2 linked regions of the Homo sapiens genome follow. Changing the gene in region 1 together with any one later gene gives a genetic interaction. Each region holds a gene or a part of one and is shown on either strand. Other genes may lie near its edges. The genes, in order: YJU2 and FBXW7.

Evidence for each region.
Region 2: changes in YJU2 (region 1) and FBXW7 together harm fitness more than expected from each alone (negative genetic interaction), as found in Homo sapiens cells (one large-scale study listed by BioGRID).

Annotation. Positions count from the first base shown.
Region 1 is NC_000019.10:4,263,932-4,267,013, forward strand, and holds part of YJU2 (splicing factor YJU2), read left to right. Parts: intron 1-3,082.
Region 2 is NC_000004.12:152,410,514-152,414,341, reverse strand, and holds part of FBXW7 (F-box/WD repeat-containing protein 7), read left to right. Parts: intron 1-1,812; 5' UTR 1,813-1,862; intron 1,863-2,469; 5' UTR 2,470-2,538; coding exon 2,539-3,039; coding exon of another isoform or gene 3,040-3,069; exon of another isoform or gene 3,070-3,182; intron 3,183-3,828. UniProt on the Homo sapiens protein: Substrate recognition component of a SCF (SKP1-CUL1-F-box protein) E3 ubiquitin-protein ligase complex which mediates the ubiquitination and subsequent proteasomal degradation of target proteins.

The sequences.
Region 1 (3,082 bases):
GTAGGGGCTCATAAACCAATAACACAGACACACAGAAACGATTGTTCTCGGCCGGGCGCGGTGGCTCACACCTGTAATCCCAGCACTTTGGGAGGCCAAGGCGGGTGGATCACGAGGTCAGGAGATCGAGATCATCCTATCTAACACGGTGAAACCCCATCTCTGCTAAAAATACAAAAAATTAGCCGGGCGTGGTGGCGGGCGCCTGTAGTCCCAGCTACTCAGGAGGCTGAGACAGGAGAATGGCGTGAACCCAGGAGGTGGAGCTTGCAGTGAGCCGAGATTGTGCCACTGCACTCCAGCCTGGGCGACAGAGCGAGACTCTGTCTCAAAAAAAAAAAAAAAAAAAAAAAAAGAAACGATTGTTCTTTCTTCCTTTTTTGTTTGTTTGTTTGACACAGGGTCTTACTCTGTTGCCCAGGCTGGAGTGCAGTAATGCAGTCCCAGCTCACTGCAGCCTGAACCTCCTAGGCTCAAGCAATCCTCCCACCTCAGTCTCCTGAGCAGCTGGGACCACAGGCACGCACCACCACGCCTGGCTAATTTTTCTTTTCTTTCTTTCTTTTTTTTTTTTTAGACAGTTTCACTCTTGTTGCCCAGGCTGGAGTGCAGTGGTGTGATCTTGGCTCACTGCAACCTTCGCCCCCCGGGTTCAAGCGATTCTACTGCCTCAGCCTCCCAAGTAGCTGGGATTACAGGCGCCTGCCACCATGCCCGGCTAATTTTTGTATTTTTAGTAGAGATGGCGTTTCACCATGTTGGCCAGGCTGATCTAGAACTCCTGACCTCAGGTGATTCACCTGACTCGGCCGCCCAAAGTGCTGGGATTACAGGCGTGAGCCACTGTGCCTGGCCCCTAATTTTTCAAATTCTTTTTGCAGAGATGCGGTCTTGCTGTGTTGCCCAGGCTGGTCTCACGCACCTGGCCTCAAGCAGTTCTCCCGCCAAGGCACAGGGATTACAGACATCAGCCACCATGTCTGGCCCCAAGACATTTTTCTAAAAGACATTTTCTTTGAAGCTGTGTCCTCTGATTAGAGTTCTCACACTGTGGTTCTCACATAAACCACTCCCAGAATTCATTGTCTACAACTTCCTCTCTTCTTTTCTTTTTTTTTTGAATGAATCAACAGAGTAAAGGTACTTTGAAAGCAGTCCAACCTTTTTTGATTTACTCCCTCAGTCTTGTGCCTCTACCTGATTTGATAGCAGGTGTTTTATTTGGTTTTAACGTGATTCACCTTCATCAAGACTTTTCAAACCTTCACCCTAACTTTTATAGGAAGGAATATCTCCACACTTGCGTTTTCTTGGTTTATTTTATTTTTATTTTAGAGATGAGGTCTTGCTCTGTCACCCAGGCTGGAGTGCAGTGACGCGATCACAGCTCGCTGCAGCCTCCAACTCCTGGGCTCAAATGATCCTCCCACCTCAGCCTCTCAAGTAGCTGGGACCCACAAGTGTGTAGTGTGTGCCACCACAGCCAGCTAATTTTTAATTTTCTTTTCTTTTTTTTTTTTTAGAGGCGAGTCTGTATGTTGTCTAGGCTGGTCTCAAACTCCTATCCTCAAGCAGTCCTCCCGCCTTGGCCTCCCAATCCTTAGTTTAGTTTAATGATGATGAGTACCACCTGTAGAAACAGGTTTGGGAACTAACCTAGGTAACTTTTTTTTTTTTGAGACGGTCTTGTTCTTTCGCCCAGGCTGGAGTGCAGTGGCACGGTCTCGGCTCACTGCAACCTCCGGCTCCCAGCCTGTAGCAATTGTCCTGCCTTAGCCTCCTGAGTAGCTGGGATTACAGGCGTGTGCTACCACACCTGGCTAGGTTTTGTATTTTCTTTTTATTAATAAAGAGACGGGGTTTCACCATGTTGACCAGGCTGGTCTCGAACTCTTGACCTCAAGTGGTCCACCCGCCTCGGCCTCCCAAAGTGTTGGGATTACAGGTGTGTGCCTCTGTGCCTGGCCATCTGTGCCTTTTGACTTCTTTTCCTCATTTTGACATCAGCCCAGAGCTACGACATTTTTTTTTTTTTTTTTCGAGACGGCGTCTCGCCCTGTCACCCAGGCTGGAGTGCAGTGGCACGATCTCGGCTCACTGCAACCTCTGCCTCCCAGGTTCAAGCGATTCTCCTGCCTCAGTCTCCCGAGTAGCTGGGATTACAGGCGTGTGCCACCAAGCCTGGCTAATTTCTTGTATTTATAGTAGAGACGGGCTTTCACCGTGTTAGCCAGGATGGTCTCTATCTGACCTCGTGATCCACCTGCCTTGGCCTCCCAAAGTGCCGGGATTAGAAGCATGAGCCACTGCGCCCGGCCCAGAGCCACAACTTTAAGGAGGCCTCTCCACCACCTTAGCAGTGGCCGCCCCTCACACCGTCAGCTTGGCACTCAAGGTCTCTGCCCATTCTCCATCCCACCTAGCCTGCCCTGGCACTTCCTGAATCACACTGTGGCTTCTCATCACGCCTTTACCCATGCCATTCCCCTTACCTGGGATGCCCCCTTTGCCAAGCACTCGCTTGGTGAACTCCTACTCGCCCTTCAATACCCAATGCAAGACGCCCTTCCTCTGAGAAGCTCATCCTCACAATTCAAGCTCACGCACCCTGGCTTCTCTCTCACCCAGATGGATGTTATCCTGGGTATTGGTCTCCTTGTCCCTCTCCCTCCCCACACGGTGAGCTCCGTGAGGGCAGAGCACCCATTGGGACTTCCTTAACCCAGTGGTTACCACTTCCTCTATTTAAACATAAAACAGATTGAAGAGGCTAGATGCAGTGGCTCACGCCTGTCATCCCAGCTCTTTGGGACGCTGAGACGGGAGGATCGCTTGAGCCAGGAGTTTGAGACCAGCCTGGGCAACATAGCGAGATCCCGTCTCTACAAAAATTAAAAATGTTAGCCTGCCATGGTGGCGTGCACCTGCAGGAGGCTGAGGCAGGAGAATCGCTTGAGCCCAGGAGTTCGAGGCTGCAGTGAGCTATGATTGCACCACTGCACTCCAGCCTGGGCAATAGAGTGAGACCTTCCCCCCAAAAAAATTTTTTTAATAATATAGATTAAAGGGTCCCTTCTGTTGC
Region 2 (3,828 bases), on another chromosome or scaffold:
AGGAAAAAGCATTTTCCTCATTTTGGTGCTTTTTGTTAGTGATTGTGCAGTTTAGAATGGCCCCCAAACATAGCCTGAAGTTCTGTTTAATGTTCCGAAGTGCAGGAAGGCTGTAATTTGCCTTAAAGATAAACTAATGTGTGTTAAAGAAACTTAATTCAGGCATTAGTTATAATGCTGTTGACCATGAGTTCGATGCTAATGAATCAATGTATATTAAAGATATATTTAGGCAGAAACACGCATAAAAAAGGTTATGCATTGATCAGTTGGCAACAGTGTTGTGACCAGAGGCTTGTGAGAACTGTATTTCCCCTAGGAGCAATGGCTCAGTATTTGTTAATTCAGTGGTTGCAGCAATTTTATAGAACACAATTACTGTGAATGGGAATCAACTGTATTTGATTAACGGTGGTGATTTATAGGGACTTTAGATACCAGAAATGTTTCATAATTCCCTTTCTCTGAAATCACTGTTTTAATATGTTTAAATGCATGCATGCAGAGTTGTGATGTTAAACATAATTTTACTGTGGGTTCTGGTCAAAAAAGATGAAATGTCATTGGTTAACTTGAAAGAGACATTATTCTAAACATTATCCTCCAGAAAATTGACATGTACAGGAAGCATATTGAATGCTCAGCAAATAATTTGTTTTAGAGTAATAATCTTTGAGTATTGTAGTGATTCGAGTTTTGGAAAAGAAGGCAGTATCAGTGTTAGAGAATAATATTCTTTCAGGATTTTATGTAGTTACTTTAAGGTGCATGAAAGGAGACTCAGTTGGGTGTTAAATTCTTGTCCCTGCTTTACTTGAAACTAGTAATCTTGAGAAATTTACTAAATCATTTTGAGCCTTGATTACCTTGCCTGCAAAGTGAGGAACATTTTCAATTTAAAATTCTATTTCTTTTATTAGTATTCTTCCTGACCTTGAATCATTTCTATTCCCATCATGTCCAGTTGCCAAGAAAACCATGCAACTTAATGTTGTTTGTTAGCCATCAGATTTTATTTTACTGAACTCAAGTTCAGTCACATCAGTTACCGATAAAATAATAAGTTCTATATTAATATTTGATATATCTTGACATTTTGTATTATGGTAGGAAGAAATAAAAGACCTTCCTCAAATTTTAGGATATGGGCTTCTGTTTGTTGATGTTTGTGTTTTATGATACACTGTTGTAAATCATACTAAAGGTTTTCTCTGAAAAAGACTAGAATTGACAATACTTCATTTGTTAGCAGTTTCAAGTTTTAGATCACGGGTGCATAATTTCTTGTGTGTGCACAACATGTTGGCATTTTATCTGACTTCAAAGATGTCCATATAGATACCAGCAAAGGATAAAATGTAAGAATGAATATCATGAAAAGATGCTGTATCAGATAAAATTCTAGAGCCTAGGTTAAAAAACATAAAGGCAAACATGCTTGATATATAAAAATTGAGAAATATGATAAAAAGAAGTAAGTTTAAAGCATCAGTAATACCACTGCCTAAGATGCAGTTTATTTTGAAATGTTGTCTTCTAGTCTTCATACAGTTTAAAAATCATACTATAATCACAATTTCCAGCATTTTCCCCTTAGCATAATATATTATAACATCCATGTTTTTAAAAATATTTTATGAACGTCATGTTTAGGGATTACACCATATATATCCCATCTCATAGATTCCTTTATATTGAACATTTGGATTTTTATTTACATTTTTATTTACATTTATTTTTATCTTTATTTTTTGCTTTCGTGGATAAACTGCAGTGAGCATCCTCTGTATAAATTTTTTTTTTCTGTTTTAGGATTACTTCCTTAGGATAGATTGCCAGAAGTGGAGTTACTGGGTCAGAGGGTATGAACTTATGAACTTTTTTTTTAAATAAATTTTTTGTTCATTTTCTGTCCAGTCATTTGTAAAAAAATTAAAATAATAATGATTATAATTGTTACCTGCTAGAAAACTGTGTCTGAAGGCAAGATTCTGTGATCAGAAAAGTTTGGGAAATACCCAGGGTAAAAAGCCTTTTAATCTGATTTACCTCAGCATTTCCCAAATTAACTGAACACTGAAAATTTTTTTTGATACACTTCTTAAAATTTTGTGGAAGTTTTATATAGGATATAGTCTATGAACTACTGATGTAAAATTAAAATTGTTTTATTTGCTTGAAATATTATGTTTTATTGGTCAAAGGAATTAAACTATAAATCTTCATGCTAAAAATTATTAAAAGGGATTAGTGTTGTTTACTATGGTTTTTGTGCATGTCTTTATAAAGTCTTATAACTTTTAAAATTGAAATGTTCTATATTGTTTACTAAAGAACATTTTAATGCCTTGGTGGCATCAATACTTTTTTGCAATCATTAATGATATTTAGAAAGTAGACATATAACATGAAAGTAGAACATAATATAGATTGTACAAATCTTGTTTTTTACCCTATTTTCCCCTGCAGAATGTGAAAACCTTTGCATCTTCTGATAGTCTAGCCAAGGTCCAAGAAGTAGCAAGCTGGCTTTTGGAAATGAATCAGGAACTGCTCTCTGTGGGCAGCAAAAGACGACGAACTGGAGGCTCTCTGAGAGGTAACCCTTCCTCAAGCCAGGTAGATGAAGAACAGATGAATCGTGTGGTAGAGGAGGAACAGCAACAGCAACTCAGACAACAAGAGGAGGAGCACACTGCAAGGAATGGTGAAGTTGTTGGAGTAGAACCTAGACCTGGAGGCCAAAATGATTCCCAGCAAGGACAGTTGGAAGAAAACAATAATAGATTTATTTCGGTAGATGAGGACTCCTCAGGAAACCAAGAAGAACAAGAGGAAGATGAAGAACATGCTGGTGAACAAGATGAGGAGGATGAGGAGGAGGAGGAGATGGACCAGGAGAGTGACGATTTTGATCAGTCTGATGATAGTAGCAGAGAAGATGAACATACACATACTAACAGTGTCACGAACTCCAGTAGTATTGTGGACCTGCCCGTTCACCAACTCTCCTCCCCATTCTATACAAAAACAACAAAAGTGAGTATATTCAATATATTGTTAACCTGAGAAACTTTACATATCTATTTTAATTGTAATGAAACTTTCCTCACAGTCTTTGTATTACTAAAAATTAATCTTAAGATGTGTAATAATAAAATGAACTAGTTTTTTGTCTTACAGAAGGTAATGGAAAGTATTACAAGTAGAAATACTGATAATGGGACAATCTGAGTACAAATGGAGGGAAAGTAATTGAGCCTATTACTATGAAAAATTATTAACATCAAATTTTCGTCTAAACCTTGCGTCCCGGGCAGGGATTAGTAGCTTGTGTGGGGTGTAGAGGTTTCGGGTGAAACATGATTTGTGTAAATCAAGTAATGAAGAAACTTTTTATTTACAAAATGCAGCTGCTAGAGTGGGCTATTCACAAGTGTCACTCTAAGGCATAAATTACTCAGAAGTTGCCTCAAATTAGTTCTAGTTATTTATCATTTGAGAATTAGAAATAATGAATATTCATGTAGAGTAGACTTACAAGTTAAACTATGTTTTGGAAAGGAACATTTTAACTTGAATATACTTGTTTTATAGACATTAACATAATGTCTGTGGTAGTTCATCCTCTTACTCCTACTTGCTTATTTCTTACATTTTACAGTGATTTTAGGCCATAAACAATATACAAACTGATTTAACATCGTATCGTTTAACCTAACTTGACTTGGAATGAAGTATCTTACACACTTGGATTAATAATAATTGAAATGCTAAATCATGTTTTACATCTGCTTGTAAAACCTTACTTTCTAAAATGTGTTTGGC